3 separate regions of the Homo sapiens genome follow, and regions 1 and 3 are each linked to region 2. Evidence: fine-mapped expression QTL. A gene starts in region 2. Each other region holds a variant in brackets. All regions are shown on one strand. Distances are between the middles of the regions. Region 1 overlaps NPEPL1 (aminopeptidase like 1). Region 2 holds the start of STX16 (syntaxin 16). Region 3 overlaps STX16 (syntaxin 16).

The links. PIP is the estimated chance that this variant, and not a neighbour inherited with it, causes the effect.
Region 1: its variant is the best candidate, but not a certain one, in a credible set for the expression of STX16 in whole blood (TOPMed, PIP 0.86).
Region 3: its variant is the best candidate, but not a certain one, in a credible set for the expression of STX16 in whole blood (INTERVAL, PIP 0.84).

Annotation. Positions count from the first base shown.
Region 1 is chr20:58,701,931-58,712,205 of GRCh38, reverse strand. NPEPL1 (aminopeptidase like 1) reads right to left here. Exons shown (of 12, transcript NM_024663.4): 7 at 5,006-5,083. STX16-NPEPL1 (STX16-NPEPL1 readthrough (NMD candidate)) reads right to left here. Exons shown (of 23, transcript NR_037945.1): 17 at 6,637-6,708; 18 at 5,006-5,083. Among named protein-coding and RNA genes, the nearest start is that of NPEPL1, 14 kb to the right of the region's middle. RefSeq lists enhancers at 9,641-10,172, 10,173-10,275. The variant G/A (reference allele first, on the strand shown) is at 5,413.
Region 2 is chr20:58,647,274-58,657,548 of GRCh38, reverse strand. It overlaps STX16 (syntaxin 16), which reads right to left and starts at 6,266. Exons shown (of 9, transcript NM_001001433.3): 1 at 5,411-6,266. The coding sequence starts at 5,542. STX16-NPEPL1 (STX16-NPEPL1 readthrough (NMD candidate)) reads right to left here and starts at 6,296. Exons shown (of 23, transcript NR_037945.1): 1 at 5,411-6,296. LOC107985410 (a long non-coding RNA gene) reads left to right here and starts at 7,914. Exons shown (of 3, transcript XR_005647058.2): 1 at 7,914-8,560. RefSeq lists enhancers at 4,897-5,400, 5,238-5,507, 8,537-9,074 and silencers at 7,004-7,363, 9,762-10,056.
Region 3 is chr20:58,670,372-58,680,646 of GRCh38, reverse strand. STX16 (syntaxin 16) reads right to left here. Exons shown (of 9, transcript NM_001001433.3): 6 at 10,044-10,135; 7 at 9,350-9,493; 8 at 6,936-7,016; 9 at 1,121-4,460. The coding sequence ends at 4,356. It overlaps STX16-NPEPL1 (STX16-NPEPL1 readthrough (NMD candidate)), which reads right to left. Exons shown (of 23, transcript NR_037945.1): 6 at 10,044-10,135; 7 at 9,350-9,493; 8 at 6,936-7,016. Among named protein-coding and RNA genes, the nearest start is that of NPEPL1, 17 kb to the left of the region's middle. RefSeq lists enhancers at 3,770-4,294, 4,295-4,820, 9,347-10,002, 10,003-10,275. The variant T/C (reference allele first, on the strand shown) is at 5,932.

The DNA.
Region 1 (10,275 bases), 55 kb before region 2:
ACTGCATGGGCTGGGCAGTCATGAAGCCTCGCCAACCTGTGCCGACAGAAGGTGGCCAGCAGCCGCGTCCCCTCAATACACACACACACACACGTACACACACAGAGGGGCAGGAAGAGCTCAGCCTCGTGGAAGTTTAGGTGTGAAGTTATGGCTTTCTGATGCCAAAAGTCATTTGTTCACTGAGAAATGTGTGGCCAACAGATGGTGGCAGTTCCTGCCCTGCACAGGTTCTAAGGGTGCCCCCTGACCCCGAAGCGGGCCACACCCGGGCAGCAATGTCAAATGGAGTAGAGCTCCCAGACCCCTGTCCCTGCCCTTCCTCTGCTCCCGCAGACGAATCTTTAACCAGAATACATCCTCCTAGCATGGAGCATGCCTCGAGAGCGCGGACACACAGCTCTATAGGATCCAGCGTCTTTCTCATCTCCTGGAACAGCCGACTCTTCCACCACGGGTGCAGAGCCCTCACCAAAGGCAAACACTTGGGATGGTGGGGCAGGGGCAGCCAGCAGGGCAAGGAGTGGCCAGTGGCAGGAGCTGCAGCAGTGGTGCTGGGCATGGCAGCTGCGAGTCCCTGAGACCTCCCTGGGTCCCCGCTCAGTCCTTGAGCCTCACAGATGGCCCCGCACCCCCACGCAGCACAGGGGAAAGAACCCCACCAGCCTCAGGGTGATGATATCGGAGCCACCTGTCAGCTCCACAAGGGCCCCAAGTCCCCCGCTCCCACTCTCGCAGCCCAGCCTGTGTCAGGGACACGGGGCAGGGGCTTCAGGACCCTCAGCCTCCTCCTCTCAGAGCTCCTCCCCAGATACCCCAGCACTGACATTCCATCTGTGTGTACAGTGACCACGGCCTGTCCCTGTGCTGAGGCCTCCTGTGGTCATTCCAGGGAGAAGTGGGTGTTTAGGAACAACGAATAAATGACAGCATGACCCTGAGGTCACAGGATGAGGCCATGGGGCTCCAGGCCATGGACGCCACAGAGATGAGCTCCACCAACAAAGGAGGGGAGCCCTGAAGTCCTCCTAGAAAGCAGAGTTCTGGATCTGTAGCCTGCTGGGGCGTGGGGAGGAGGAGGAGAGGGGGAGGAGGGGGGGAGGAGGAGGAGGAGAGGAGGCGGGGGGGGAGGAGGGAGGAGCGGGGAGGAGGAGGATTCCCAAATGGATGCTTTCAGCCTCCCAGGGAGGGCTGCTACCCGCTGAAGGCTGGGCCCTGCCCCTAATTTCTGATCCAGCAGGTCTGGGGCAGAGCTGAGAACCCATATTACTAACAACATGGGGACCCCACTTGAGAAGTGCTGGCTTAGAAGACGAGCGAGCTGCAGTCCTGGGGCAAACAGTGCTGAGGTCTGCACGGCTGGAAGACGTGAGACAGAGACAGCACAGGCACGGCCCTGCCCTTGCGGCCCTCACGGCCAGTCTGGAGGTGTTCTCCAATCACCAGGAGCGGCTGAAAAAATCCAAGACTCAGCAGAGCTGGAGGTGAGCCCTGGAGCTGTCAATGTTCACACACTTCCTGGGTGTTACCTGGCACAGTTGGGACTTGCTGGTCTAACAGAAGAGGGTGGCCAAAGATGGGGCTGGACTGTGAGTGCTTCAGCGACAGCGTGGGAAGGGTCTCCAGTGCTACGCCAGGGCTTGGGCCTGGTCCCCCAGGGCGGCCAAGGGTTTTGGGTTGGTAAGTGGGTCAGGGGCTTTTTTTTTTGGTGCCAGGCTTGGAGGGTCGCTAACACCCCCAGAGCCCAGGGCCACCGAGCTCCTGGCGTACCCTTCCATCTTTGAATGGTACATCCTCTTTCTAAAAAGTTCAAAACATTTCACTGTGAAATAATTTCAAACTTACAAAAAAATTGCAGAAATAGTCACAAACAGCCAGGAGCAGTGGCCCATGCCAGAATCCCAGCACTTTGGGAGGCTGAGGTGGGCGGATCACTTGAGGTCAGGAGTTCAAGACCAGCCTGGCCAACAAGGTGAAACCCTGTCTCTACTAAAAATACAAAAATTAGCCAAGGGTGGTGGCACATGCCTGTAATCTCAGCTACTCTGGAGGCTGAGGCAGGAGAATCACTTAAACCTGGGAGGCGTTGCAGTGAGCCGAGATCGCACCACTGCACACCAGCCTGGGCAACAGAGCAAGACACCATCTCGGGGAAAAAAAAAAAAAAAAAAAAGCCACAAACAATTCCTCAACACCCTTCACCCAGATTCTGCCAATGTCAGCATCTTGTCCAGCCATGGGACAATGGGCAGCAGGGGGTAGTAATCACCAACACAGGACCATCACCTCTCGGGACCATCCAGATTCCATGTGCTCCTCAGACGTCCAGATCAGATCAGACCACACATCAAGCCTGGCCTGCTTGCCCTCCTTAATCTGGGCGACTGCATAGTCTGGCTTTGTCTTTTGTGGCCTTGGCACTTTCAGTGCTGGGTTTGTCTGACGTGTCCTTGTGACTACAGGCAGGCCATGCATTTTTGGTGGGAATCCTGCAGAAATGCTCTGTCCTTCCCTGTACACTGCCTCTGGAGGCATGTCAGGTGGCTCTGTCCCTGCCCTGGTGACATGCCCTGGGACACCTGGTTAGGCTGGGTTGTGAGTGTCACCACTATAAAGCTGCGAGAGGCACTCTGAGAGCATTTGACTGTCCTCTTCCCATCCCACTCTCATGCTCCAGTTCCAGCACTGTGGGCCACTCTCACCTGGAATGAAGCCTGGCTGTGGGGTGACGACTTCCTGTTTCCATCACTACCTCTGCAGCCTGAAACTGGGATTCAGTGTGAGAAACGGTTCTCCCCCATTCATTTATTCCTTCAGTGATCTATTCCTACCAGTGTGGACACGTGGATGCTGATTTTATTCTCTGGGTAAATGCATTACCCTGAGGATTGATTCTGTGGCTCAGACAGAGGCGTATTCCTTTCTAAGAGGCCAACAAGGATATGTGAAGGCCAAGCAGGACATTCGCGTTCACAGTGGAGCCTCCAGGCTGGAGCTCTTGTGGGAGGGGGATCTTTGTCCAGAGTGGGGGTGGGGTGTCCTCAGCACCCCTCAAATCTAGAGGTGCTCCTCCACCTCTAGAGGCCGCAGCACCTCTAGAGGTGGAGGAGTGCTGAGAACACTCACGGCTGCTGCCTGATGAATCTGTGATCATTTGTCAAGTGGCTTCCTGTGAACAGGGAATTCAAGCTCAGAAGAGTCTTCCTGCTGGGGCATTCCCAGCCAGCCTGTCCCAGAGGCAGGACAGACCCTCTGTTGGAGGAGTAACCAGGGGTGAACGGCAAAGACGGCCACAGAGGGCTGGCCACACGGCTCCTCCAGAACCACTTGCCCACCCCTGCCCCCGTGCCACCCCAGAGCAGCAACTGCTCCCTTCAGAGAGAGCTGCCCAGCGAGCACCGCACAGCTGGGCCCGTCCGCCTCAGCATTCTTCTGGTGAGCCCATCTGCCAAAGCCACGGGGCCTGGGCAGAGGCAAGGAGGAGGGCCAGGTAGTGGGAGCCCAGAGCCACCCTGCCCCGTGGCCTATGATGCTGGGGCAGTCAAGACCCTCCTTGAGTGCCAGCCGTGTCCCTTGGTAGTTTATAACCAGTGAAGGAGTAGCGCACAGAGGACACATGCTCCTCCTCCAGCCTCTTCCGACAGGCTCTGCAGTGGACGGGCCACGGCAGGTGCTCATGGAGGCATGGGGCTTGCAGGCTGCGTACAGCCCCAGCTGTGTGCTCAGCACGAGAGAAACAGCCGTGAGCCCTAAGAGGCCGTTTCCAAACCCGTGCAGAGCACAGGTGAGGGCCTGCCAGCCCCTCCTGCCCAGGCCGCCTCAGCCCCGCACCTCCGTGTCCCCACCGGCTGGGCCTGGTAGCAGAAGCCCGTCACACAGTCTGGAATGTGCACGGCCAGCTGGGAAGCCCCGGCAGAAGGAGCTCCTTCCTCCTGGGATTCCTCCTCCTCCCTCACGGCCAGGAGCAGGACCCTCCAGATTGGAAACTACTTGCCAAGGCCTTTTTGTTTTTCCATTTCAAGTTTACCCCAAGGAACTGGGTTGCTGGCCTGAGAAAGGTAGGCTAGGAAGGTAAAACCTCGGCTGATGAGTCAATGCACACTCCTCATTGGCCTGTTTCTTTAGACAGGGTCTCGCTCTATCTCCCAGGCTGCAGTGCAGCAGTGGGATCTTAGCTCACTGCAGCCTCAACCTCCCGGGCTCAATCGATCCTCCGCCACCTCAGCCTCCCAAGTAGCTGAGACTACAGGTGCGCGCCACCACGCCTGGCTAGTTTTTAAATTTTTTTTTATAGAAACGGGGTCTTGCAAGGTTGCTATGGGTAGTCTTGAATTTCTGGCTTTCAAGCCATCCTCCTGCCTCCGCCTCCCAAAGTTCTGGGATTACCAGCATGAGCTGGCCTCTTCATTTGTTTAATAAGCACTTTTTATGGCCCCAGGGACATCTGGGCTCCATGGGAAGGTCACTCAAGGTCACCCCCCACCCCCCCCACGCCCCCCGAGTGACTACTGCCACTGAGCAAGGGCTAAGCATTGGGGCACCTGCCCACGCAAGAGAGGAAGGGGGCCTGGCCAGGCCTGGGGGTTGGAGGTGGTGACTTGGTGAGACCAGTCACCAGAGGCAGCTCTGCTGCAAAGAAGGGTTGCGGGAGGGGTACGCAGAACAACGTGTGCCCCTGCCATGAGCTTCTGCCTGCCACATGCCATGAGGGTCTAGGCCAGGCTTCCTCATTGAGCCAACCGCTCATGGGGCTCTGGAGCCAAGGCAGGCCCTGAGCAGAGAACATGGCTGCACCTTGCCCTCGGGGCCTCCCAGAGCAGCTCTGATGAAGGCGGGAAGCTCTGGGGGCCCCAGAAGAGCCTGGGGGCAGAGGGGGGACAAGCATCCGCTGGGGAGACTCGGGTAGGACCCTGGTGGGGCCTGTGGCGGGACGGACAGGGGAGAGGGGAGCACCCACGAGGCACACCCAGGATGCCCCTGCAGAGGGCGGGCAGGGCCCACTCACCTGCTTGATTGCGGCTCTGAAGGCCCCCAGGACGGCCGCAGCACCCCCGCAGTCTCGCTTCATCCCCGGCATGGTAGTCTGCGGGTGGTACAAAGGGACCAGGACAAAGGTGAGCTGTGAGGTCCAGGCCTGGCAGCGGAAGCCCCCCACCCCCACCCGGCCCCACGCTAGCCCCACCTTCCCCAGCTCTCAGGCCTGGGCAGCCCCCACACCAGGCCTCCTGGGCACCCACAGAACTCATGAACCTCATATTGGCCAAGTGGGGTGTTCTCCAGAAGCAACAGGGAGTCATGGCCATAGATGGTGAGGCTCCCTTTTGTTTTGACAGAACTTTGGGGTTATCAAACAGTAACTGCACGGAGGGGGAACCCGAGGAGATGCCCGGAGCTGCAGAATTCGCTGTGGCC[G/A]GGCTCTGACATTGAAACAGGGACCCCGTGCTTTGACGCCGGGCACCCTGACCTCAGTCCCGGGCTGCCACGCCGCCTGGGGGTCTGTCTGCAGGGCCACTCTCTCCACTCCTCCGCACAGCGTGAGAAGGAAGCTGAGGTCCAGGGAGCCTCTGGGGCTTGCTGGAGGTCCCTGGCCAGCACCTCAGGGACCTGGGTGGGCTTGCGTGCTTCCTGCACCCATTGCAGATTCCTAGTGTGCTTATGGCAGGGAGGAAGCCTGAGGGGCTGCTGCCGCAATGCAAACCTGCCCTGGCCACCTGTCGCCCCCCAGAACAGGGCCTAGCTTCCTCTCCCTGGCACTTAGAGGGCTTTACCACCTAACGAGACTTAGGCTCAGCATTCTCTGCCCCTCATCACAACCTTGAATGATGGTGAGGGTTGATGTGAACTCTTCGCCAAAATCAGTCACATCCACCCCCACTGACACCACCAGCAGTGAGGACACCTGTCGCTCCTTCATGTCACTGCCAGGTCTATCGCCAGAAGAAGGGGCCACCTCTGCCCTCCTGCTAGTTCACACCTCCTGGTTAATAGTTCACACCTCCTGGTTAACCTGGGTCTAAAGAGGGGCCACCCTTCTCCTGCAGTGTCCACACTGTTTCCTATACGCTGGTTGACAGTGTTACACATTTTTACATTTTACAGGTTCCCAAATCAAATTCACAAGTTCATATTTTAAATTAACAGCAGGTCCTCAGAGGTAAAGGTTTGGGTATGAAATTTACTGAATCATTTTTGAACCCTTATCTTATTACACAAGCTTTGAATTTTAGTGCAAAGTATTTTTAGATGTAAATTGAGCTGCTTTTATAATTGAGTGAAAATGACCCATCTTGTACTACTGAAAATAAGCCATCTCTTCTGAGCTAATCTGTTTGAGAAAGCACAGGATTGTTTAAATGGAAAAACAGGGCCTCCGATCTGGAATCAAACCATGTGCAAAATGGGTCACACAGCAATGCCTGGAAACGGCTGCTCACTGTACACCATGTCTCCCCCGTCACAGCTGCCAGCTCCTTCCCAATTGCAGGTGGAGCCAGGACTGGGCTTGCAAATACAGCTCAACTGATTGATTGTGCAAAGTTTCACCAGCCCCCATATGTTGTTTCTGTTTTTATAGAAGAAACCATTTTCGCAGTGATTTAAGACGGTCTCTGCCTTTTTCACGGGGCTGACACTTACACCCCCTGTGCTGGAGTATCAGGCCACAGTCCCAAAGAGGTCCGGGAGCCACTGTATTCGTTTCCGTGCCCTCTGGGAAAATGAACCAATGCCAATTTCACGTTAGAATTTCCTTGCTGAAGCAGTAAAATTAATTTTTAAAACTCTCAACCCTTGGGTACAATACATTTTCCATATTCCGTGTGACTCATAATGTACTCCTGCTGTTGCTGACGGGCAGTGGTCGGTCAGAGCAGAAGCTCAGCTGTGATTGCTGGGGGAGTTCTGAGCTCCATGAGCCACTCTGGCCACGACACCATCTTTACTTGAAAGAAAAACTGACAGACAAATGGCATTTAATTGGATTTAGGTATCTGGCAGATATTTCCCAGAAAAGGAACAAACTGAGCCTCTTACTTCCAGAAACAGCTGACATTATTTATTGCCAATGGTATACATTTGAGCTTTTAAGCAAAAATCAGAATTTTGAAAAACTTTCTCCTATCACCATGACAACTTCCTCATAATGAGTTTTCTGATGAGATGGATGGTGATATTAAGTGATTTTTTGATACTATATAATGTAATGTGTCAAAAATTTGAATTTCTGCAGAACTCTGTGAACCAACATTTTTCAAGTGAACATTCATTTTTCCATGAAAAACCACATGTTCAAAGTGAGAGAGAACAGCGGATTTAACTGCCACAGAGCCCAAAAGTCTATTCATGAGGCTTCAGATTCCATGTTATAACCAGCCTTTAAGAAGCTACCACTTGTTGAGTTTTGGTGTAGTAGCAAAGAATGTTCATAGTTAGTTAGCTGAAAAAGGTACTAAAATCCTTTTCCCTGTTTCAACTATAAAATGCGTGAGGCCAGATTTTCTTGATACAGTTCAACTGAAACAACACATTTCCATAGACTACATCGGAAGCAGACGCAAGGTCCCTAGCTGTCTTCTATTAAGCCAGACACTGACAGGATTTGTGAAAATGTACAACAATGCTACTCTCTCAGTAAATTATTTTTTCATTTTGGAAGATGCTTATCTTCATAAAATTATTTATGATAACATGCAATGGATTTATATGTTATTTTTAATGAATTATACATGTTATAAATTTCTCACTTTTAATTTCCAGTAGAGTAAATATCAATAGACATTGTTATACAAAAAGCCTCTTTGGGGTCGGTACTTGTTAAGAGCGTAAAGGGGTCTCCAGTAATGCATTTGAGGCCTGCTAGTCCAGGCTGGTCTTGAGCTGCCCTTGAAATCTTTGAAAATGGAGCTGTGATTTTTTTTTTCTTGCAAAACTGGGAGCTGGGCTGGCTCCAGCCGGCTTGCTTTTTGAGGAGTGACCATTTCTGCACCATTTGCTCTACAGGCAGCCACTGGGGAGAATGCCTGCTGCGTTGCGTCTGCGTTTCACACCAGGCCGTTGGGGAGAGATTGTGAGCGCCTTCAGGTCAGGATTGGGGTCTTTGCATCAATGGCTGGAGCCTCAGCGCCCACTCCACACAGTAACAGCTCAGGAAAGGCCTGCTGGTTGATCCCAAATCCACGTAGAACGGTTCCAACTGCAGCGGGGAAGATGGGCTGGTTTAAAATAAAAAACCAGGTATTGTTTCACTGGTGCCAGAACACCCAGCTCTTCCTGGTATTATGGGGTCTGCAGACCAGGTGGACCCCGGGAATAGGCAGGGGCTATAGTCGCATTTTCAGAAGGTGATCTGGAGCCATGGAAAATGCCCTACTCTCTGGCAGTTCTACCAGCCACCCTCAGACCACAGCTTCCCTGAAGGCTGTGCAGCTGTGGCCTCTAGGGAAGGCCTGTGTGGTCAGGTTTTTCCTTTGTGTTAATTTCCAGGCCGGGAGCTGACTAACTGCACAGGTCTACCCACAGCCACATGAGATGAAGTCAGGTGCAACGATATTTTCCCTAAGTGACTAGAGTTAGTGCCACAAGCAAACGAATGAATTCCCAGGAAGCTCATCTTCTCACATTGGTCCACAACAAGCCGACATCAAAAACAAGCATCTGATCCAAGGAGAAGAGGGTCCACGACTCTACCAGCCAGAATGTAGCGGCTTCCAGGGTGACCGTGGGTATTGAGGGTGCGTGCGAGGGTGGGAGCAGCCAGTACCAGGTGCAGGCAGTAGGGGGTGCACTATCTGTGGCGAATTTAGGAATCATAACCGACTAGAAGTCAGTTTGCTTATTACCACCGTGTGCCGGTATCTCTGAACAAAGTCAGCAATAACATATTCCTCCTCCGAAAATCTGTTGTTGATTGAAGTTTAAAAAATTGCTGTGGCTACGGTTGCGTTTTAATCACACAAACAAAAGCTTCAAATTCGCATATCGTTGTTACTTATCCTGAAAGTAACATTACATGGACGTTAGCAATGACCCGACACAAAATCTACTACCCACATTCCTTCTGAGAATCGCTCTGACAGTCAGATCCTGTGGGCTGGCTCTGGGCACAGTCGGGGCCTCCAGGGCCCATGATTTCCTACCTCCCGGTGTCGAAACAGAGGACCCAAAATAAAACACGAGAGTGCGGGATGGTCAAAACGAAGACGCGGAACCTGCGTTCCTTCACTTCCCTCATTCCATGTGAACACTTGGAGTTACTGTGTCCAAAATGCTTTTGTTCTGCAGACATCTGAAAGCCACAAGAATCCACCCTGAAGAACTGAACACACAGTGGGTGTTGTGATTGCTGGAATTTACTGTGAAATGGGATTTTTAAGAATCTCTGCCAAATGATACCGTATTAAAGACTTTTCCTAAGTATCTGTGTATCTGTTGCCTCACGAGATTGGAGCTCTTCAAAATCAAAGTTAACAGATAGTATTCTTGGACCAACTATGAGTGAAGACAGCTGGCAACTCTGCCTACTGAACATACATTAGTAAAGAAGATCAATTTAAATGAAACCATTGTCAAACGTGTAGATGCTAAGACCCAAAGCCAGAAACAAACATTCATTCCACCATCTATTACCCCAAGAGACCCATAGGGAGGCATGTTTTTTCTATTAAAAAAAAACAAAAAACCCTTTTTATGATTAGTGTCATTTTCTGCTTAGTTCTAAACAGTTTTGTGGTTTAGAGGAGGGATGGGAACTGCTCATCCTCTCCAGGTATGAAATAAACTAGGCGTGCTAGAGAGCGCGGCGAGCTGCACCAGCGCCACCCTGAACAGCAGCTGACACTAGGGCTCAGTGTCAGGAAGGCAGCAGCAAGTGGTGGGGCCTACCGCAAACCAAACTGGAGAATGGGTGACACCAGGGGCAGGCCCACTGGCTGCAGGGGAATGCTGCCAGGCGGGAACAGAACGCCAGCACTGGCAGACCTTCTGAGTGCACAAAAGGCCGGAAATCCAGGCTTTGATGAGAATCCTTCCTGGTTTCAAATATTGGTAGCTAATTCAAATTTTAAAAATGCCAGGCCTCCGTGAGCCTTGCAGGCTGCTAGTTTGCAGTGTCTGCTGCGGATGCACTCCCTGCTCCTTCCAGACCTCCTGAGGTATGTACTTCCCAGTCTGCTCCCTCCCTGTCCTTCCCAGCCCAGGCCTGAGCACAGAGGCTGCTCACACGGTGTGTAGGATGAATGGATGGAGATGGTGCGGAGGAGGGCAGGGCTTGCTGGGGCG
Region 2 (10,275 bases):
ATTTATAGTCTAAAGAACTTTCTACATAAAACTGAAAAATAAGTGGAAACCCATCTGTGTTTACTCAGGAAGTCTGGAAAAGTTGAGCAAAATGAGTTGGAAACACAGGTCTATGCTATAGTGATATTTACTTTATTTCCGTTACTGCCAAAATAAAAGTTTGCTTCACTTTTATCCAACAAAGTACCCTTATTCTCAAAGTAAGCCTCACTGCTCCCATGGAATCTTTAAAAGCAGAAAAGCAAGTAGATCTAAAGAGAAATATATAATGATTTCATACTTGGATTCTAAAGACAGAGAACTAATTTTCCAACAGACTCAGCTTGTACTAAAACTTAGAATCTTCAATCTGCAAGTTAAAATTGACTATGTAAGGTTCATAAAGTGAGATAAAGAAAGATGCTAGCCTATTGCAAGAAAAAAAATTGTTTTAAAACAATAGGTCCTTCCATTTTCCAGGATCTGCAGCACAAGTTCTGAAAATGCAGCCAACACCAGAGTGGCCCAGGAGGTGAGCACGGGGCTCTGAAGCCAGATTTGCCAGAGTTCCAATCACAGCCCCCAGCCATCAGGTGGGTGACACTGGGCCAGTTTCCTACCTCCTCTAAAATCTGTTTCCTTATCTGTATCTGAGAAAAACAATAGTACTTATTTGATAGAGCACTGTGAAGATGAGCTGAGCTTACACACGGAAAGGGCTTAGCCCAGAGCCAGGCACAAAGTAAACTCTCCATAAATCTTAGCTAATATTGTAGTCAAGCCTGAATAAGGACCTCAGGTTTCTTATAACCATAGTTAATCCTTAATTTCCTTTTTCCTAAAGCACACATTTTATTAAAAATAATGTGCTTATGTTTCAAACTAATCTAAGACCAATTAACGCTAGCTTCCAATTATAGATTATGCATTATTTTAAAGCAGAGTATAGATTAGGCAGTAAACACTAACAAAGTAGCTCCAACCCCTATATTAGATCCATTCCCGGAGATCGAAGGAAACCACACAAATCCATACAGAATTTCATCAGATCAGAAGAGCATCTCAATATCTACCTTTCATTCATTTCTTTATGACTTTACAATTTGTTTTGAATAATTGTTTAGCTTCATAAATCCATTTCAGTTTCCTAAAGCCAAGCTGCTTGAATGAGTTGCTACCTTAAAACCTGCACTTGGCTGGCATAATAATGTGAAAGTTACTTTTGCACAGTACTGGGGCTACTTCTAAGGATTTCTGTCAGTAACCTTGGACTGACAGCTACAACACTGTTGACTATGAATTTCTCCTTTTCAAATTAAAGCTAAAGTCAGGAGAAACAATGTATTAAAACAGAACTTGAGAAAATACTGTTGAATCGATAGGGCTGCTGGAAATCACCTAACCCAAACCCCTCAGTTTACAAATGAGGCAAAAAATGTCCGAAAAGATTAAAGGCTTGCCTAAGGACACACTCTGAGCCTGCAGCAGAACAGGACTTAGGCCTCAATTCTCAGATTCAATTCTCAGTGCTCTTTCCTTTATTTCATGCTGCCCTGAGGCATGAACGTGATGGGGCACTCAAAACTGAGGCCAAAGTAAAATGCATGGGAAATACGACTGTATTTTGTTAGGAGTGCATAAAGTCAAACCTGTCTGTTTTTTTACAATTAGTTTTACTAACTTTAATACAACTAAGAACACAAAAAAGTAGAATTTTGCTCAGTTCTGGATGCTGAAATCTAAAAAGGATACAGAAAAACTAAACATCATTTATAGGAAAAAAGCATAACCACTCTGAGCCGGGAATGCTAGGCCTGGAAAGAATTCTGGGTAACAAGGCTGCAGGGTTACCAGACAGAAGGAAGACCCGAAGGAACAGAACTAAAAGCAGGACCCCAGGACACAAATAGTTGGGATTAACAGGCAAAGACTTTTTAGTGGTAAAAATCATGGAGCTGCTGGCATTTTCCATCATTGTCATACACCATGGCCAAATAAGATAGGCATGAGGGGTTATCACAAATGGGGACATTAGGCCAAATGACCTTTAGGTTCCTTCTGGCCCTTGAGGCTTTGTGTTTATCTGGTCACTGCGTATCCTCCTTAAATTCCTGTTTATTTGACATATTTGCCTGAATGCTGCAAAACCCTGTATGCACGCACAGGGACACACAATAACCCCACTACAACAACCAAATTCTAGTTTTTTCCCTCAAACTAGGATGCAAAAAATGCATGTTTAAATTTTTTGAATGGCATGGCTTTAGGTGTGCTTTGCTTTGAGGTGTATGATACACACTACTCTGCAATTAATTTCTGCAGCTTTTTCCTGAAATAAGATGTCAAAATTCAGGATTACAATTTTTTTTTTAAAAAGTCTGTTATTTTAGGTGTATTTTTAGTTGGTATCAAATGCATCAAGATCAAAGTCTACAGCTTTTTCTTCTAATTGGAAACTTAAAATTCCAGGTTATTATTTTTTAAATTAAGTTAAACTTAGGTTTAATTTCTTCCTTTCAAATTGCCTGAGTGTTAGACATGTATTTACAAATTGCCTCTTTTTAACTGTTTTACTTTACTATAACAAATATACTTACTTTAAGTTTCTATTTAAAAATTTTCAAACATGCAGAAAAGCCTACAAAATGGTAAAATGTCGCACACATACTCATCACTAGACTTAACAATGAGTAACAATTTGCCTTATTTGCTTCCTCTATTTTTGGAGGGGTTTAAGGACTTAGGTAAGATGCCTTGACATTTCACCACTAAACATTTCAGTAGGCATCTCTAATAAAATTAGCAAATGTAATGTATTATAATTAATTCCTTAATGTCACCTAATACCTAGTCCATATTCAAAATTTGACAGATACGATTTTGTTTGGTTTGCTACATGGCTTTGAAATTTACAAGTCAGAAACAAGGCTTTAAATTTTTTGTGAGCTAGATATGCAGTGAAAAGCATTGCTAAGAGTTACTCAATAGATTTTACAAATTGTGTTAAACATGGCTTTTGCTTCAAAATGTTTATAAAGCTTTTCCAACTTCCAGAAAAGTTGAAAAAATCATAACCTCTATTTAGTCTTGTTAGCATTTCGCCGTACTGTGTGCAGAATAGATTTTGTTACGAATCACCTGTAAGCAAAGTGAAGATGTAACACTTCAACCCTAAATACTTCAGAAATTTATGACATGCCATTTTTTAACACAATTAAAATATATAAATCTGTGTTTTATTTTTAAATTTGAATTCAGGCAAACTATGTTTGTTAGACTGCAAAACCTATTTTTGAGATAGTATGGATTGACTATAAGGATATTTTAAATGATATGACTGCTTTCAATGATCTGAGAAAGATTTTAAATGGTCAGACTAATATAAATATTAACATTTTCAATGGTATGACATTTAGAAAACATTTTTTAACGTTCTTAGAAATGTATTTTTAGTTGGGTTTAGAAATCTATTTTCAAAAAACTGTGAGTTAGCTAAATGTATCTGTATATACCCTGACATATCTATTTTTCCAAACTGTATACGTTAACTATCCATTTTTAATTATTCTGCTTAGCTTAAATATTTTTTAAAATTGCCTAACTTAGAAAATAATTTTCTAAAGTGGTCTGATTCAGAGATGCACTTTTAAAAAGCTTCCCGTCTCAGATACTAGGTTTTTAAACTGTCTGACTTAATCGGGAAAAAAAAAAAAACCCTCATGTTACCCAAAGGTTCAGGGTATTTTGAACCTTAATGATTAAAAATTGAAAAATAAACAATATGTTTTTCAATTAAAACTGATACCTTAGAAATCTTAATATGAGTTTCAGTAGTTTTTGAGGCAGCACAAAATCAAGTCATTTAAGGAACATGCAGTTCTTATTTAACATTACTGAAGTTCCATTAAGGAATTGAATTCATCCAATTTCTACTCGATTTCTTGGATTATTTCTTCTTCAAAATTAGCGCTAGAATTAGCCTGTTTCTATGCTACCAGACATCTTTACATTTATTTCAATATAATGTAATTCCTTTCCGTTTATAAATGTAAAAAAAACCCTTCAACTTCTTAATTAACTGAAATCTCACACACACTCTGTCCCTAGTTCTAGGCTGTTTGACCTGAGTTTACATGCTTTTATTCCTGAAACCGCTCACACGGCTTAAAATGACTTTTCTATCAGTTATATGGCCAAAGACATTCTCCACCTGTGACTTACAAAAAGGAGAAACTGTCTTTGTAGACATGATAATCATGACATATGGCAAAATTTTCCTGAAGCATTTAGATAAAGCCATAAAGAAAAAAATAAACTGGCAATACAGTCCCTAAGAGGTGAAATGAATGTTCCAAAATTGCCTAATATCAAGTATAACCCCCAAGAATGTGGTCCTGGGATGGCTATTTCCCGCCTGTTCCAACGCTGCTTCTATTCCAACCTAGTCTGCCTACAGCAGGTAGCCTGAACTACAGCCAGTTTCATAACTTCACTTTTCAATTGAAGACATTACAGAGCTAACGATCACTGTCTGGTATAGATCATCCAGACTCGCCCCTTATTTAACAGAGCAGTAAACTGAGGCTCAGAAAGGGAAAAGTAGCCCCCATTAAAAACAAACCCCAAACAGTAATTTTTCCAGGACCACCCTTAAAAAACGCTACTGCTAGGCTAACTAAAGGTTGTGGTTAATTAAAAAAAAAAAGTGCTATTTTACGGGGTTAATTTTCACATATACCTCCTCAGGCTTTTTTTAAAAAGTTCGAATGGAGAGGAAAGCTTAATTTCCTGTCTGGGAAATGGAAAGTGAAGAGGCTAGCACCTTGAGTCTCACAAACGCAAGCCCCCAGGAAGAACAGTGAGGCAATTATTCACAGGGAACAAGGCCACACAGAGGGCTGCGGGGCCGTTAAAAGAAAACGGGCGGAAAAACAAAACAAAACAAAACAACAACACAACTCCCTCCTCTTTGAGGGGAGGGAGTCGTTCATTTTGCAAGGATTTGGGTCTACGATCCGGCGACCCAGCCCTTAGGACCAAACTGAGGCTCATTACTGGGGGGAGGGGAGCTTCAAACAAAACGAAACAAAAAGGCTTCAGAAAGGCCCAATGCTTCCCAATGTTAGCGTTAAAACATATGTAAATTACAGGCGGCCTGTAGCGCAGTGACGCCAAGGCGGGGGGTGCGGGGGGGGGGGTGCTGCGGAAGTGAGGAGAAGACCGGGCAGAGGTGGAGCTGCGGCCTCACAGCACCGCTTCTTCCTCATCCAGGGCTACAGATGCCCCCTGACTCTAGCCAAGAGATCTTATTATTCTTAGTCTTATTATTCTTATCTTCTCTTTTTAAACAGAGAGACAGACAGAGACAGACAAACAGGCAGAGCCGCAGTGCACACGGTCCGTGTGTCGGAGAGGCCGCCAGGAGACTCACCGCAGCAATGCTACGTGAATGCAGAGGGCTGGAGGTGATGTGACTACTCACTTGCTCGGCTAACAGCTGCCGGTTTTGGATGGAATTATTCCGCAACAACAAGAAAGCGTCGGTTAAACGCCTGGTGGCCATGTCTCACCCTTTGCGACCCCCCTCTCAGGGGCCCCCCGCCCACTTATATTCCTGATTTATTCACTTTCTTTCTCGTGGCCCGGCTGGCCCACCCTTTCACGGAAGCTTCTCGACAAGGCCTCAGGCCTCAAGCCAAAAAGATGCAGCTGTGCGCTTCGCCAAGGCGTAGAGACCCCTCCCCAAATAACTACCTAGGCTTTCCAATTGTCTGACTCCCCCTACCCAGGGCAGACTTCGATCTCTAAGCACTTGAATCCCCCCAATCCTTGCGTAGCGATCCAACGTCCCAGAGACCCCACCCCAATCCAACCTTGGATCTACAAGCGTCTAACTCGCCAATCCGGCTCTAGACTGGGAGGCCCTGAAGCCCCCTACTCCCTGAGACCCCCCGGAGGTCTCTGCTCTCTACCCCTAACTTTGGCTCGTAAGCGTCTAGGCCGTGCCCTGAGGTCTGGCTGTGACTCAGTTTCCGCACCAGAGGCCTGGCCTAGGCCCTCTTTGGACAACCGGAGCCAGGCTTGGGGCCTGGACTCGAGGGCGCCTGCAGCTCCCTTCTGGGGACTTGTCTGAACCTGCTGAGGCCCTGCCCGACCTCCTGACCCCTTCCTTTCCTGGACGGCCTGGTCCTCCACTGCCAGCAGGCTGCCGGCCTGCAGGAAGACAGCAGGGCCTGCCTCCCCGGCCTTCTCACTCCTCTTCTCCGGCTCCCTCCATCCCCGGATCTGACTGCAGCTCAGCCCCGGACCGTTTCCGTGCTGTGGTCCCGGGTTCTGGCGTTCCCCCCTGGCCCTCTTCCTGTCCGTCCCTCGCGAGTGCCCCCCTGCGACGCTCGCAAGCCTTGCTCGCAACGTTCCGGGCGCGGGAGCTCCCTGCACTCCTGCCCCGGGGCACGGGAGTGCTCCGCCCTCTCCCGGGGTGCTCCTCGGGCGCCCTGTTTCGCCTCCCCCAACTGGGTCCAGGCACTAGGAGCAGGCCAACGAGCAGGCCTGAGCCTGGGGAGCGTGGCCCCCAGGCTGCAAACCGCTGCCAGGGCCCTTGGTCGCTGAATTAGAGTGGAAGTTGCGCGGCAGGCAAATTTGGGCTCCCCAAGAACTGAAGTTTTGGGCGCGGGGAGTTGGAGCGGGAGAGGAAAAGTTGGAGACGACTGCCTCTGCAGGCCGAGCACGCTCTACTGCAGGCGGCGGCGCTCGCTTTTTTTTTTTTTTTTCCCACTCTGGAAAAAGATGTATCCGACAAACAACCACGAGGAAATAAAAGGAAAAAAAAAAAAAAAAAAGGAACAAGAACTCCAGGCAGCCTGGCCGCGCCGCCGCTGGCAGTCGGGGGTCGTCGGGGGCGCCCGCCCTCCCCAGCTGCCGCTTTCTGTAGGGGGCACTGCAGGGTCGTGGAATCTCAAGTGGAAAAGTTCCCCGAAAACTTTGACACCTCCCACCCCCCTCCCCGCGAAAAAAATCTCTGTTCCCTGCCTGGGCCCTGGCCCTGCGACCCCCGCGCCCCCCCGTGCCCCGGGCCGGGTTTTCCACGGTTGGCCGGGCCCAGGGCGCCCTAAGCACCTCGACTTGCCGCCCCGGGCCAGGTCGGCGGGGTTCGTGCAGGGGCTCCGTGGGGCCGCGTCGGGCAGGGGCCGCCCGGGCCCGAGCACGGCACCCACAAACAGGCTGGCGTCCCGCGACGGAGACCCGGGTCCGGCCCGGAGCCGCCCGGGAGGCTTGAGGCCAAGGGCCTGGCCCAGCGCGCGGCCGGAGCGGGTCGGGGGCGCAGAGCTGTGCGGCGGCGCCTTCCGGGCCCCGGGCCTGTGCAGGGCCGGCTTCCCCTTGCGGGGCGAGGCTGCGGGCCGGGCTGCGGTGCGGGGTTCCAACAAAGGACCGAGGCCCCAGAAGCGGCCCCCACGCGTCCTTTGTTTCTGCGTGGAACAAACTTTACACACGTGTGTGTTTTCCGAGGGTTTCCCGTGTGCTGAGCGCTTGCAAAGCGGAGTCGCGCCCGGGGAGACGCGAAGCCGGTGCCCGCGGCTCACCCAGGGACCCCAGCCAGACAGCGGCACCCGCGGGGCGCGTGCGGGACCCCCAGGCGACCGGGGGAAGCACCGGTAACCGCCCCCCACCCGTGCTTTTTCTCTCACGGAGAATGTTCCCGCGCGTTCGTTGTGCAACTAAAAATTAATGTGAAACATCCATTGAGGCAAATAACAAAATGCATCCAACGAAACCCACATAAAATCGAGAGAGCCGCGAGCAGGGCTGGGCGAGTTCACTGTGAGGACCGGCTCTGGCTTCCGCGCAGCGCGGAGAGCAGGGCGCTCGCCCGGGGACGCTTCGCAGCGGTGGAAGATTCGGGCGACAGGGGACTGGGTCGCCGCGCGGGCCGGGCTGGAGGCTGCAGGGACTTGCTGACAGGCCATCCAAAGACAGAGAGGCCCTGGGGAGGGAAATTCGGGGAGCCCGTGTGCTTAGCGTAGCGCCCCGGGAAATATTTGCCCAATAAGGGAGAGTTTGTCCCCACACTGCGGCAGAACCCCCCTGCGAGCTCTGACCCCAGCAGCACGGCCAAGCCCCCCCAACCCCGCTCCCCCCTTTAGGGGACAGGTATTTGTAAATAACAACTGAGCTGGTCGTCGGTAGGAGAATCAGATTAGAAACATGGTCCCCACTCTCTTCCTATCTCCCCAGCACTCATCACCTCACAAAGCAGGGGGGGACCTGTTTACTTTTCCTGGCGCTCTCCCCCAGGCTAGAACGTGATCTTCTTCCTACGCAGGGACAGTGTTTTATTCATCTTTGTACCCACTGCCATCTCATCTGGCTTGGAACAGGCTCCGGATAAATATTTTTTAAATATGTGCATGAATTAATGAGAGACTCGAGATTTAGTCCCCAAACTCTCTGACCTCCCTCGAGTGACTTTAAGCCTTTAGAGCCCTTATCTGTTAAGAAAAAAAGAAAAAAATGTGGGTTTTTCGTAATCCTCGTAATCCGCGCCCTGTCTACTTCTCTGGGGTTATTGTGAAGATCAAATAAGGTAAGTGAAAACTCTTTGTAAACTACCAGGTGCTGAGCAAATATTATATAGGATGGTTATTCATTCATTCCCTCCGTTCAGGAAGCTTAGCAAAGTAATTCCTGGTCTTGTGTTTCAGCAGATGGTGGTCGCCTTTCCTGGTCAGTCTTAAATATTTATTACAGGACAATCTCATTCTTACATTTAGGAGATCAATCAAGCTTCCATTTCTTTGAGCGAAATGAACACTGCTTGCACACAAATAATGGAAGAAAAATCCTGGTATTCCCAAAACAGCCACCCCAAGCAACCCAAGAGCCTAACAGCGGGGAGGTCAGGAAAATCCAAGAAGTTGGCATAGCAGCCCAAAGGCAGCACCGTGCAGCTCTGACCAGGCCCCAAAGGCAGCACCGTGCAGCTCTGACCAGGCCCCAAAGGCAGCACGGTGCAGCTCTGACCAGGCCCCAAAGGCAGCACCGTGCAGCTCTGACCAGGCCCCAAAGGCAGCACCGTGCAGCTCTGACCAGGCCCCAAAGGCAGCACCGTGCAGCTCTGACCAGGCCCCAAAGGCAGCACCGTGCAGCTCTGACCAGGCCCCAAAGGCAGCACCGTGCAGCTCTGACCAGGCCCCAAAGGCAGCACCGTGCAGCTCTGACCAGGCCCCAAAGGCAGCACGGTGCAGCTCTAAGCAGGCTGTGTTTAGGTATGGGATTGTGTGCCTGAAATAGTGTTAACCAAGAGGGAGCCCAGAGAGGGCATGCACCCCTGGCTCCAGTCACGTCCATGGTCCATGTTCGCCCTGACCCACACTGGAAGGGAGTTGGGGAAGGATGTAAATCATTATATTTGAATGTTCCTTGGCTGTTTTATTTTCCTGTCAAGTGACTTAAGCTTGATTTTTTTTTTTTTTTAAAGCATTCCCCCATGGCCAAGTATGTGTTTCCTTGGAATTGAAATCTAGGTTGATGGTTTTACATTTTAAAAGCTTTCATTGTGACTCATTCTTGGCCTGGGCTAGGATTCGGTAATACTCCTCGGGCTTGGTGAGGCTCCGTGTCCTGTTTCTTGGGCTTCATACCCACTTTCTAACATTCTGCCAACGAATCCAATAAGTCACTTTTGGGGACAAGTGTTTCATTGTTTTCTTGTCATCTCATTCAGTGCAGGAGGAAGCCCCATTGAAGCCAGGCCATGGCTTGGGCAGGTGCAGGTTTTCAAGTACTGAGAGGGGATGGTTAGCTCAACAGGTCAGCAGTGGGACACACACCCTTTGGTGAAAACAATTTAAATGAGATAGGGCTCATGTAAGCCCTTATACAACCTCAGCATAGAGTAAGTGCGCCACAAATGGGCAATATGATTTATTACAGCAGTAGTCTTACTGTTGGAAAGCTCACGTGGGCTCTGCTCTCCCTGGAAGGCATCATAAACTCCAAAGAGAATGGCATGGTATTGAGAACTGAACACTTGGAAATCTAAGCACGTTTCCGAGCTTCTTGTTCTGGACCTTGGGAATCCAGATGTGTCTGCAGTGCACACTCATGTGGAAGAGGGGGCTAAACCATCTCAAAGACACCTTTTAACATTGGTCTTTCTCCCACCTATAGAAAGACAGATGGTTGTTTGCTTATCAAGCAGCAAAAGCCCCCAGGCCTAACATATGTCTCGTCTGCACAGATCTGACAGACAGATTCGGGCCAGGTTCGGGTAACAGGAGTTGTGTGTTCTGTGTCCCC
Region 3 (10,275 bases), 23 kb before region 2:
CAGCCTGTTTACCTGCTGTCAAAGTGAGCATTCAAAGGGACACCCCAGTGGCTCCCCACTTCCAGGCCTCTTGGCAAGTCATGCCTCCAAGTCATTGGTGGCATCCTGCAGCTCTCCACTGACAGCAATGCTTCTGCAGACTGCGTCTGCATACTCTTGTAGTGCTGGTTCAAGACTGGGCCACCAAAGACTCAGCTGAGAACATAACCCAAGAGGTCACCAAAGAGGTGTTGCCGCCTTTATGTGGTCCCCTTCGGGATGGAGGATTTCTTCAATGTTATTAAATAGCATTGCCGGTCAGAATATTCTTGAACCCTATGGCAAACGTCTCTCCCTCGAGAGTGGATTTGATTCTTGGACAGAGCCAGTGGCCAACATGCGAGTTGGGGAAATGTAATTTCTTAACAAAAAACACGGTGAGAGTGCAAGAGGAGGAGGTTGTTTCTTTTGTGTGGTTTGTTGACAGGCTCTGAAGGGTTCTGCTGTTGAGTCGCCGCAACACCTCAGGACCAAACGCCAAGGGTGCCAAAGAGACCTGGCATGACAGCTGCTATTTTTTGTTTGTATAGGTTCTGGTGATGAAACCACATACCCCTACCATCACTCAGGTCCACATCTCCCACCAGCAAAACAAATGCATCAAAGTCAAGTTTCAGGACAAAGGTCCTCCTCGGAGGACCCCAGGACAGGCACAATCAAGGGGAAACATAGTCTTGGCTTTGAGTTAAACTGGCAGACACTTGTCTCTCAAGTTTTTGGTGTAACAGAGTAGGAAACAAAATCATTTAGAAAGTCAAGTCTCTTACAGCCTGTGTGTAAGAATTGCTTCTCAACAAGGCACATCACAGTTTTATTTGGAGATTTCCAAATGTTTCTTGGTATGTATATAAAGCATATATTTTCATAAGAAAAATACTTATCTGCCTTTTAGGCAGTTGTTCTTTTTGTATATCAGATAGTAAATAGATTGTCCCTTTGAAAGCATCCATTAGATAGATCTACTTTCGGACACTGAGGCAAAGGCCTCAGGCACAAAACAGAGTCAGGGGCCCAGAGGATCACAAAACTGGCCAAGCCCTCCCCTAACACAAATGCACTGGAAGAAAACATGAACCCATTGTTAAAATTAATACTAGGATTGCAGGATGTTCTTTAATCTGCGTGATTGCTTTATTGTACAAAAAGTTTCCAGTAACAGTAAATTGGTTTTAAAAAAGGACAAAAAAGTCATTTTGGATAGAAGTGCTTCACTAATTGCTTTATTTAAGCATACAAGAAAAAAAGTTTTATCTGACCAATTACGTTGGAAGGGTTTTATTACCTTTAAGAAGCCATTAGCTAGGATAAAACACTGAAAGCACTTGTGTCAAAACAAATAAATAATGTAAATAACGCTCTCTCAATTAGCAGAGAAAACAGTGAATCCGTTAAATCAGAGACACACATCACTTCACAAGCATGGCCCAGCCAGCACCACCACCCCCAAAACGAACAAAACAAGAGACAGCAGTTTTCAGTTACAATCTTGGGAAAGATCAGGAGCTTTGGAAAACGCGTGGTAAACATGTCTGTTTCTCCTTCTACCTCCACTCAACCTGAGCTGCACCCGGACACTTTAAAGGAGGCATGTGTCCAGAGGCTGCATCCAGGGATGCCCAGAGGGAGCCTGCCCTGCTAGGCCTCCTCTCAGAGGGCGCATCCCAGGCAGAGGAGACTGGCCTGGGTGATCGTTACCTCCACGGCCCAGTAGAGTGTGGAAAAACATGAGGTGCCCACAGACAATGGCTGCCAGCGAGTAAAGGGAAAGAAACCCTGAGGTACCATGATTCTTTTCTCTTACTTCCTCAAATGCTACTGATCTCTCCCCAAGTACAGGCTCAACAGAAAAATACAGTGGTTTGAGGACCCCAAGAAGTCAGCACACAGGCCAGGGGCCAGCTCCAGGCTGGGTCTGTCTCTCCCACCTTGGGAAACCCAGCGCTAAAACAATTTTTTTTTTTTTTTTTTGAGACGGAGCCTCGCTCTGTCACCCAGGCTGGAGTGCAGTGGTGTGATCTCGGCTCACTGCAACCTCTGCCTCCCGGGTTCAAGCTATTCTCCTGCCTCAGCCTCTTGAGTAGCTGGGATTACAGGCGTGTCCCACCCGGCTAATTTTTGTATTTTTTGTAGAGACGGGGTTTCACCATGTTGGCTAGGCTGGTCTCGAACTCCTGACCTCGTGACCGCCTTGGCCTCTCAAAGTCTGGGATTACAGGCGTGAGCCACCGAGCCCAGCCCCTCCTTAAAACAGTTTCTAATCAGATCCGTTATTTTACCCAAATGGGTTGAGGGAACAAAAACCAACCCTCATCACCCTATTTGGTGAAAATAAATATAAAAAAAGATGATCCTCTCTTAAAGGGTCACTTTCCTTCAGGGGTTTGTAAGGCTCAGCACTTTAAAAAGCTTGAACAGAAGTCCGGTATTGCCACTGTGGACTGTTTTTGAGGCAAGTTCCCTAATGTGGACAGCCCCACACCTAAGAGCAGCAGATCTAACTTGGAACGTCTCAACCATGGGTTAAAATCAGATGGGATGAAAGAACACCTGCAGTGACTCTCAACAGCTACGGAAGTCTCACATTGCAGGGCTGACTGATGAGGTGCTGGCTTCTTATTCTCCGGCCCTCTTTCCTAAGCAATGTTTGTCAGGGAATACCAGGTCCGCTTCCTGAAATGCCAGGGCCCCTCTAGGACCTTATCATTCCACAGCCACATCAGTAATAGGAAAACCACCAATGGCTACCTGGAGGTGGCACCAACTTGGAAAGGGAAGGCTGGGCAGGGGTTTGGACACTAAGCCCATGAGCTGTTTGGACAACTTCAATCTCTGGAATTGAGTTTAAATTTCTGTAAACAACTTTAAAGTCAACTCTAGAGAGACATTTTGTGTGACTGGTCCAAATAAAACAGCACATTTAATGAGGTCATATTCTTCTTAAACTTTTTAAGAGAAGCAAAAACAATGGAAAAGCCATTAAAATTTACACAAAGACCATTAAAACTCTACTAGTGTCAATTAAAACAAAGCCAATAAAACATGAACAACTTCAAAGTTACCATCACTTTCCACACTGTTCTACAGTTATAGGAATATATTCAAGCACCATATTGATAATAGGTAGGTAAACGATGAAGTCCTACTTTGGCGGTCTGACCCACGCTCACACAAACGAGGAGCTTCCTAGTCAAGATGCCCCCAGTCCTTGGCAATGTGCCTGCTTCCTGGGCATTGCTCAGTGGCAATGGAAGAGCCAATAAATCAAATCGCTGGTGGAATATTTTACTTTGAAATGGAGTGATGTTTGGTTAATAATTTGAGATCCACTAATCCTAAATGGGGTGACCCATTTAAAATGGCCTCTGTGTAAATTCACAGTTCATTAAATAGAGTCTGGTTTGAACAGGTCATTATGTAGTTAGTATATAAGTAATGGATTGAGCAAGGATGGCTGGGGATACCCATGGGGACACACTGGCTGAGTCTGGTGGCTTTCATAACACTGTCAAGCTTTCTTTTAATGTGAGATTCATTTAAATCACCAACTTAAATTTAGGTGGTTTTGCTTAGTAACCTCTTTTGGTTTACAGTAGAAAATGCAGTGCAAAAATTTTAAATGAGGAATATTCCATTTACAATTAATTTAAAACTTATGAAGCTGTTTTAACTGGCCCATCTAAATGTGTTAATTAACATCAATGATGGTTTCTTATTTTTCACACTTTGTTACTCTGATCATTAACAGTGATGGAAAAGCTAAATTAAGTTAATGGGGAACGGATTATAAATTCTTAAAGGACTTCTTAGTTTGTTTTCAACTGGAAAATATATAGAGAAAGATGAAGGGGCATTTTTGCCTCTACTCATCAATTTTTGGTACCAAATTTCTTAAAAACCAGATGGTTTAAAGAAAATTTTTCCAAAAATTATGTTAACATTCTGCTCAGACATGGCTGCTAAAAAAATAGCATATACACATATAATACTGAACAGCTTCTGCAGTGCCTGTAAACTCTCAGCTCATTTTCTCTTTCTAAAAAAAATATATATTATAACTGATCCCAGAACTCAATCTCTATTGTGCAGCAGTATCAAAGGTCCTTAAATTCTCAACAATGAAGGAAAAACAAAAACCCATTCCCCGGACCGCTTGAGCAGGACTAGGGAAGGAGGAGTCCGTGGATGCAAAGGTTCGCTGCCCCGACGCCCTCAGATTCCTCGAGGCTGCACCTCTGCGGGCAGCTGGCGGGGCGCAGGCCAAGCCCCTCACACCCGGGAGATCCACACGCGCGGCACACACGAAAACCCAATGCCACTTATCGAGACTTCACGCCAACGAGGACAACAATGAGCACAATGATGATGACAAATAATATTAAAATCACAAGCATCTTCCGATTCTTCTTTTGATACTGTTCTGCCTACAAAAAGAGGAGGGAAAAAAGGCCGTCATTTTCCCCAAAATCCCAAATCAAGTCCCACTCGTTTCCAGAATGAGGCTTCCAGATCTCTCTGCACAGTGACTGAGGTCTCTGCTACAGGCTACATGATTGTAATCCCTCCAATCAATCCCACGGAATTCAATCACCAGGAGTGGAAGAGCCCCATGATCCTGGTGCTGCTTATTTACCCTGGACGTGGAAATGGATTTGTTGGAAACCTACTACTAAGACAAAGCCTGACAGGGAAGTGAAAGCTCATGCTTCCGGGTGCAGCTGGGCCTGCTTCTCCCGGCTTTTCCTCCTGCAGGCCGTGGCAAGTGCCCCTGCAGCACGGGTCGCCTGTTCCCGGTCCGTGTTCCTGGAGCGAATGCACAGTTCCTTCACCGCGGAAGGAAACAACGGGCTGGAGGACCGTACCTGGCAGGTAGGCAACAGACACCCGGAAGAGGCCCCATTTCGACCTCCCCTAAATTTGGAAACAAAAACTCATCCTTTGAAATAAAAACAGACACGTGTGCCCCATGGATGTCATATGCAGAAAGATCCCTCTGAGGCGCGTCCTCCCAGTGCCGCTAACGATACAGCAAAGGAGCCCTCCAAGCTCAATCTGGGGACGAGGCTGCACCCTGCACATCTCTTCACCTTAACACCGCATCCTGGAAGCTCGGCAGGAGCGGGAACTCCATCATGCCTGCTAGAGAAATGCCAAAGGGCCCCACCTGGCTGGCGAAAGACGCAGAGCACTGAGAAAGGAGAGCCAGAGGACAGCAGAGTTCAGAGGGCGCCGGGAGGCACGTCCAGGGAGAGCATGCGCTGCCTCTTCCAGACCTTGCTATGGCACAGGAGGGAGGAGGAGACAGCGGGAAGGCAGCCCTGGCGAGAATGGCAATCTCTCCTGCTCCATCCCCCGCGGTGGGCTTGTTTCCTAAGTGAGCCTGCCCGCCCACCTGGAGGAGCCCCTCATCCACCAGGAGGAAACATCAGGCACGGGGACAGCACCGAGAGTCCGGTCATGGGGAGCAGCTCCCGACGCTCAATCACCCTTAGACTAGCCGACTGCCGAGCACGCGCGTGCTGCCTACAGCCTTGTGGCTGGAGGGAAGATGGAGCACGCTGACTTTTCTAATAAGTAACCCAGAACACCAGGGAAGCCAATACTAAATAATATACTGTAAAACCTCTCAAAATGATTTATAAAGTAGAACCTAAAACAAAATTTTTAGTTCCCACTAGATTTGCTCACTCCCGCAGAGAAAGCTTTTCCTTTTATCTGTGTTATATTACAAAACATATTTCACTAGTTTTTATTTAAGAAACTTCAAAACCAATGCATAATTCAGCAGCACATCAAAACCTGGGTATTACAGAGTGAGAAACTTAAGTTAGTTTTCACTTTTAATAGACAGGGCTTGGCAACCAAATTAATCTAAATGCTTAAAAAAACCCTGCA[T/C]AGACAAGGTCAGACTTCTCTTCCCACCACAGGCTGGAGTCTCATATCCACCTACACATGGCAACAAGCCCCCTGAAAAGACAGCTCAGGGCTTCTGGTTAGACTAGTGCAAGGGCTGACTTTTTGTAAACCCAATACTGCTATTAAATGGGGCGATCTCTGGTATAGGAAGCGACTGATTTCAGAAAAATGGTAGAGTAGTCCAACAGTGAATTGGCAAAACACTCATTATATGGCTAGAAACTCCACTGGGTCTCAAAGATACAAGGAAATGGATATTATTTAATTTGTGAAGTATTGTTATATTCCTTTTAAAGAAAATACGTAACCAATTATATATGAGAGTCTCAGCCGTTTATGCATGTTTCTTATAACCGATAAGATTCCTAAGATGCTTTCCATCTATTTTTTTAAAAGAGAATATCATAAAAACATCCCTGAAACAGCTACCTTATTAGCACAGAATAAAAGAATTACTACTCTCACTTCAACAAACTTCTCTTTTCTCAAGGTAATACAGATATGCTGTGGTAATTAAAGAGAAGATTAGATTTTTATCTTCTGCAGAATGATTCTCCATCAGCAATTCATCAGGAATGTATCACAAGAGAGGCCCAAGTCAACGGCAACAAGCAGACAGATTTTCAACACATATTTTAGCAAATGCCCAATTGATTTCCTAAAACAAGAAGCATTAGAAAAGAATGAAATATTTTCTAAAAGAAAGAACTCCAATCTCTTTAGAATTTACTGTCACAAAAAGGAGTTCTTAGCAATTTTGGATTTAAGTGTGAGATACACCTGGAATCATTAACTGCAATAAAACGGCAACAGCCCCCACAATTGGCTTTAAATGAAATGATGAATCCCTTTTTACACTACTGTATTGAGAGTGGACAACACAAGAATGCTGAAGATCGTTATGGTGGAAAAGAACCCTCTTACCAATTCTTGATTATTTGAAAATAGTTCCTAAGATTCCCAAGTCTTGAAAGACATATTACCTTGTGAAGCTGTTTCAAACCATCTTCAGTTTTGATACAGGACTGTTCAACGTTATAGTCAATTCTGTCAAGGACTGTACCCTAGGTAATAAATGACAGTTACAGACAATCAACAATAGCAACTGGGAAAACTGAACGTCAAAAATGAGATATGCAAATTACAGACATCATCATCCATAAGATGATGTTTTCCTTCCCTGTGTGCTGCAGGTACACACGGAGGGCTCTGGAGTTCACCCTCAAGCAGTGTCAGGAGCTCGATGGCAGAATGCTGGTTAGTGCCATCACATCTAGCTCACGAGAAAGAAGTACTGACAGACTGAGGTTTCCTTATTGGTTTCAGCTGCCATAGAAATGCCATATTCGGACTTCCTGGGGCCCTAAGAAATCTATGGTCCAGTGGACAGAGGCTCTGAGCAGCACAGAAGCTCTGCGCCCATTTGCTGCCTACGTACTTGGATTCAAGTAAGCAGAGAACACCAGGTAAGCTCGCCCCTGTCATAAGTAGACCTGCAAATTGACTATCACGTCTATAAACGTGGATCCACATCTCTATGGGTCAGAGCAGGAAATGGTAAACTCCAGTCTACCACCTAAAATTAAAAATTTGGACTCAAGGGGAAGATGTTTAATTGTTTAATCTCTTAAACAATTAAATTGGAAGACGGGGACACTGGGCTATGAGGAAGAACAGAGCTTTTATTGGAAACATGCTGGATTAGAAGAGATAGCAGTTCACTGGGAACCACTGGAGTAATTAATGTAACTGGATCTTCCAGAGCCTGAACACTCCATTCTGCAGTTGGTTTCAGGGGGATCAGGACCCAAATCCCTGCTGGCAAGATAATAAAATGCCCTAATCAGATTTTAACGGTGAACAACAATTTAATTCTACTTGAACGCTAGTGGTTCCAATTGCCATTACACAATAACCTGCCAAAATTAGAAGGGAAATCTTCTATAGCGTCAGAATCATTGCTGAGCTCGGTCAGAGTCAACTAGGTCTCTAGAGTAGGGTGCTCACATGAGTACCCTCGAGGCATGGGAAGAGAATATTAGAACTTCATTTATCAAAAAAAGATTTATTAATATTCTTATAGGGAATGACAGTAGCCTATGTATATAATTTGTAAATACACACATATACAGGCTGAGTATCCCTTATCTGAAAAGCTTGAGACTAGAAGTGTTTTGGATTTGGGATTTTTTTTTTAGATTTTGGAATATTTGCATACACATAATGAGATATTCTGGATGGGACCCAAGTCTAAACACAAAATTCATTAATGTTTCTTATACCTTTATGTTTCATATACCATTAATGTTTCATATACATAGCTTGAAAGTAATTTTATACAATATATATATATATATTTTTTGAGACAGAGTTTCACTCTTGTTGCCCAGGCTGGAGTGCAATGGTGCAATCTCGGCTCACTGCAACCTCTACCTCCCAGGTTCAAGCGATCCTCCTGCCTCAACCTCCCGAGTAGCTGTTACAGGCACCTGCCACCATGCCCAGCTAATTTTTTTGTATTTTTAGCAGAGACGGGGTTTCACCATGTTGACCGCGCTGGTCTCGAACTGCTGACCTCAGGTGATCCATGTGCCTCAGCCCCCCAAAGTGCTGGGATTACAGATGTGAGCCACCGTGCCCGGCCACAATATTTTTACTAGTTTTGTGCATAAAACAAAGTTTTGACTGCAACCTGTCACATGAGGTCTTGTGTAGGGATTTTCCACCTGTGGCATCATGTTAACACTCAAAAAGTTTTGAATTCTGGAGCATTTTGAACTTCATATTTTCTGATTAGGATTGCTATGTATATATATCCTTTGAGTGTCATATTGGCACTCAAAAAAAAGTTTCAAATTTTGGAGCATTTTGGATTTCAGATTAGGAATGTTCAACCTGTATTATCATATATCATATTATTATTGCATTCCTCTCATTTAATCCCTAACAAGCATCCTATGAGGATGGTACTATGATTATTAGTCCCATTTTACAGATGAGAACACTAGAGTCAGAGGGATTAAATGAGAATCATGTAACTGTTAAACTGCTAAGAGCCAGGGTTCCAACATTCCAACCCCCCAGGGCTTTTCTCAAAGCACCACACTCCTCTGATAATTAGCACCCAGGAGACTTCAGTAAAAAATGTAAACACTGAGGTTTCAACACTAGTCCTATTATTTTAAAATTAATCAAATTTAATATTTGATTAATATTAATATACACACACACACACACACACACACACACACACACACCCACACACACATAAAGGACAGGTGCACACACATGTTGGGAAAATTGGCTCCAATTTTTTTCCCTGAAAGGAGTACAGGAAAAAGAAGGTACAGATAGTATGGCAGGAAAACCTATTCACGAGGAAGGCCAGCTCACGTACCTGTTCTACAATCATCGCCCCTAAGTCCCTGAATATTTCATTCAGGTCAGAAATGGACTGTACAATCTGGCGAATCTCTCGTTCCCGCTCTTCCACCATCAGTGTGTTCTGCTCCACCAGAACTAACTGGTCCTCTGTAAAACCCTAGCAAGACAGTGCACAATGTGTTGGATAGATTGTTTTCCCTCTCAGGAAAGCTATGGTATACTTGTTTAGATATAATTTAAAGACAATGAAAATAATTTAAAGAAAATGAATTCTGAAAATATTTCTACAAAGCACAGTAAGCACTCATTTTTCCCTAACAGGAAAGATTCAAATTCCCTAAACCAGCAGGATCTAAAGCTCTGAGGCCATAGCAGGGAAGACAGAAGCCCACGTCTGCCAACTCCACAAGGGCAGATAAACAAAACCCCCGGGATAGCCCTCTGTTTCTCTGGGCTCTTCCTAAGAAGGCAGGGTGTTGACCACTTTCCCAAAGGCTCTGGAAAGCAGATTACAAGGTCTCCCTGTGGCCTTTGGAAAGGAAGAAACAGTACGGCTGTTCTTCCACCTGCTGCAAAACAACCTGATGAATATACAAGTCAACTGTATCAATCCACTGACACTGCACAGAAGATCGAGGTCTAGGAGGTGAAAGATGCAGAATGGGGTGCACAGACACAGCAATCAGCTTTGCAGCCCGTTCACGTACCCGATGGTAAAGAGTGTTATCGTCTCCATCATCCATTAGTGGTACTGATGTGTCGAAAAAATGCTGGGATCTTTCCTCTCGATTCTTCATGCCTATCACAGATAGGAATTCATTTTACTTGAATATGTAAACCATCCTGAGTATTGTTCTACCATTAAAAGGGGGAATTCTAGAGTAAACTCCAACAGTCAAAATTGAGATATTCTTAGCCGCTTTAAAGAAGCCTATCTCC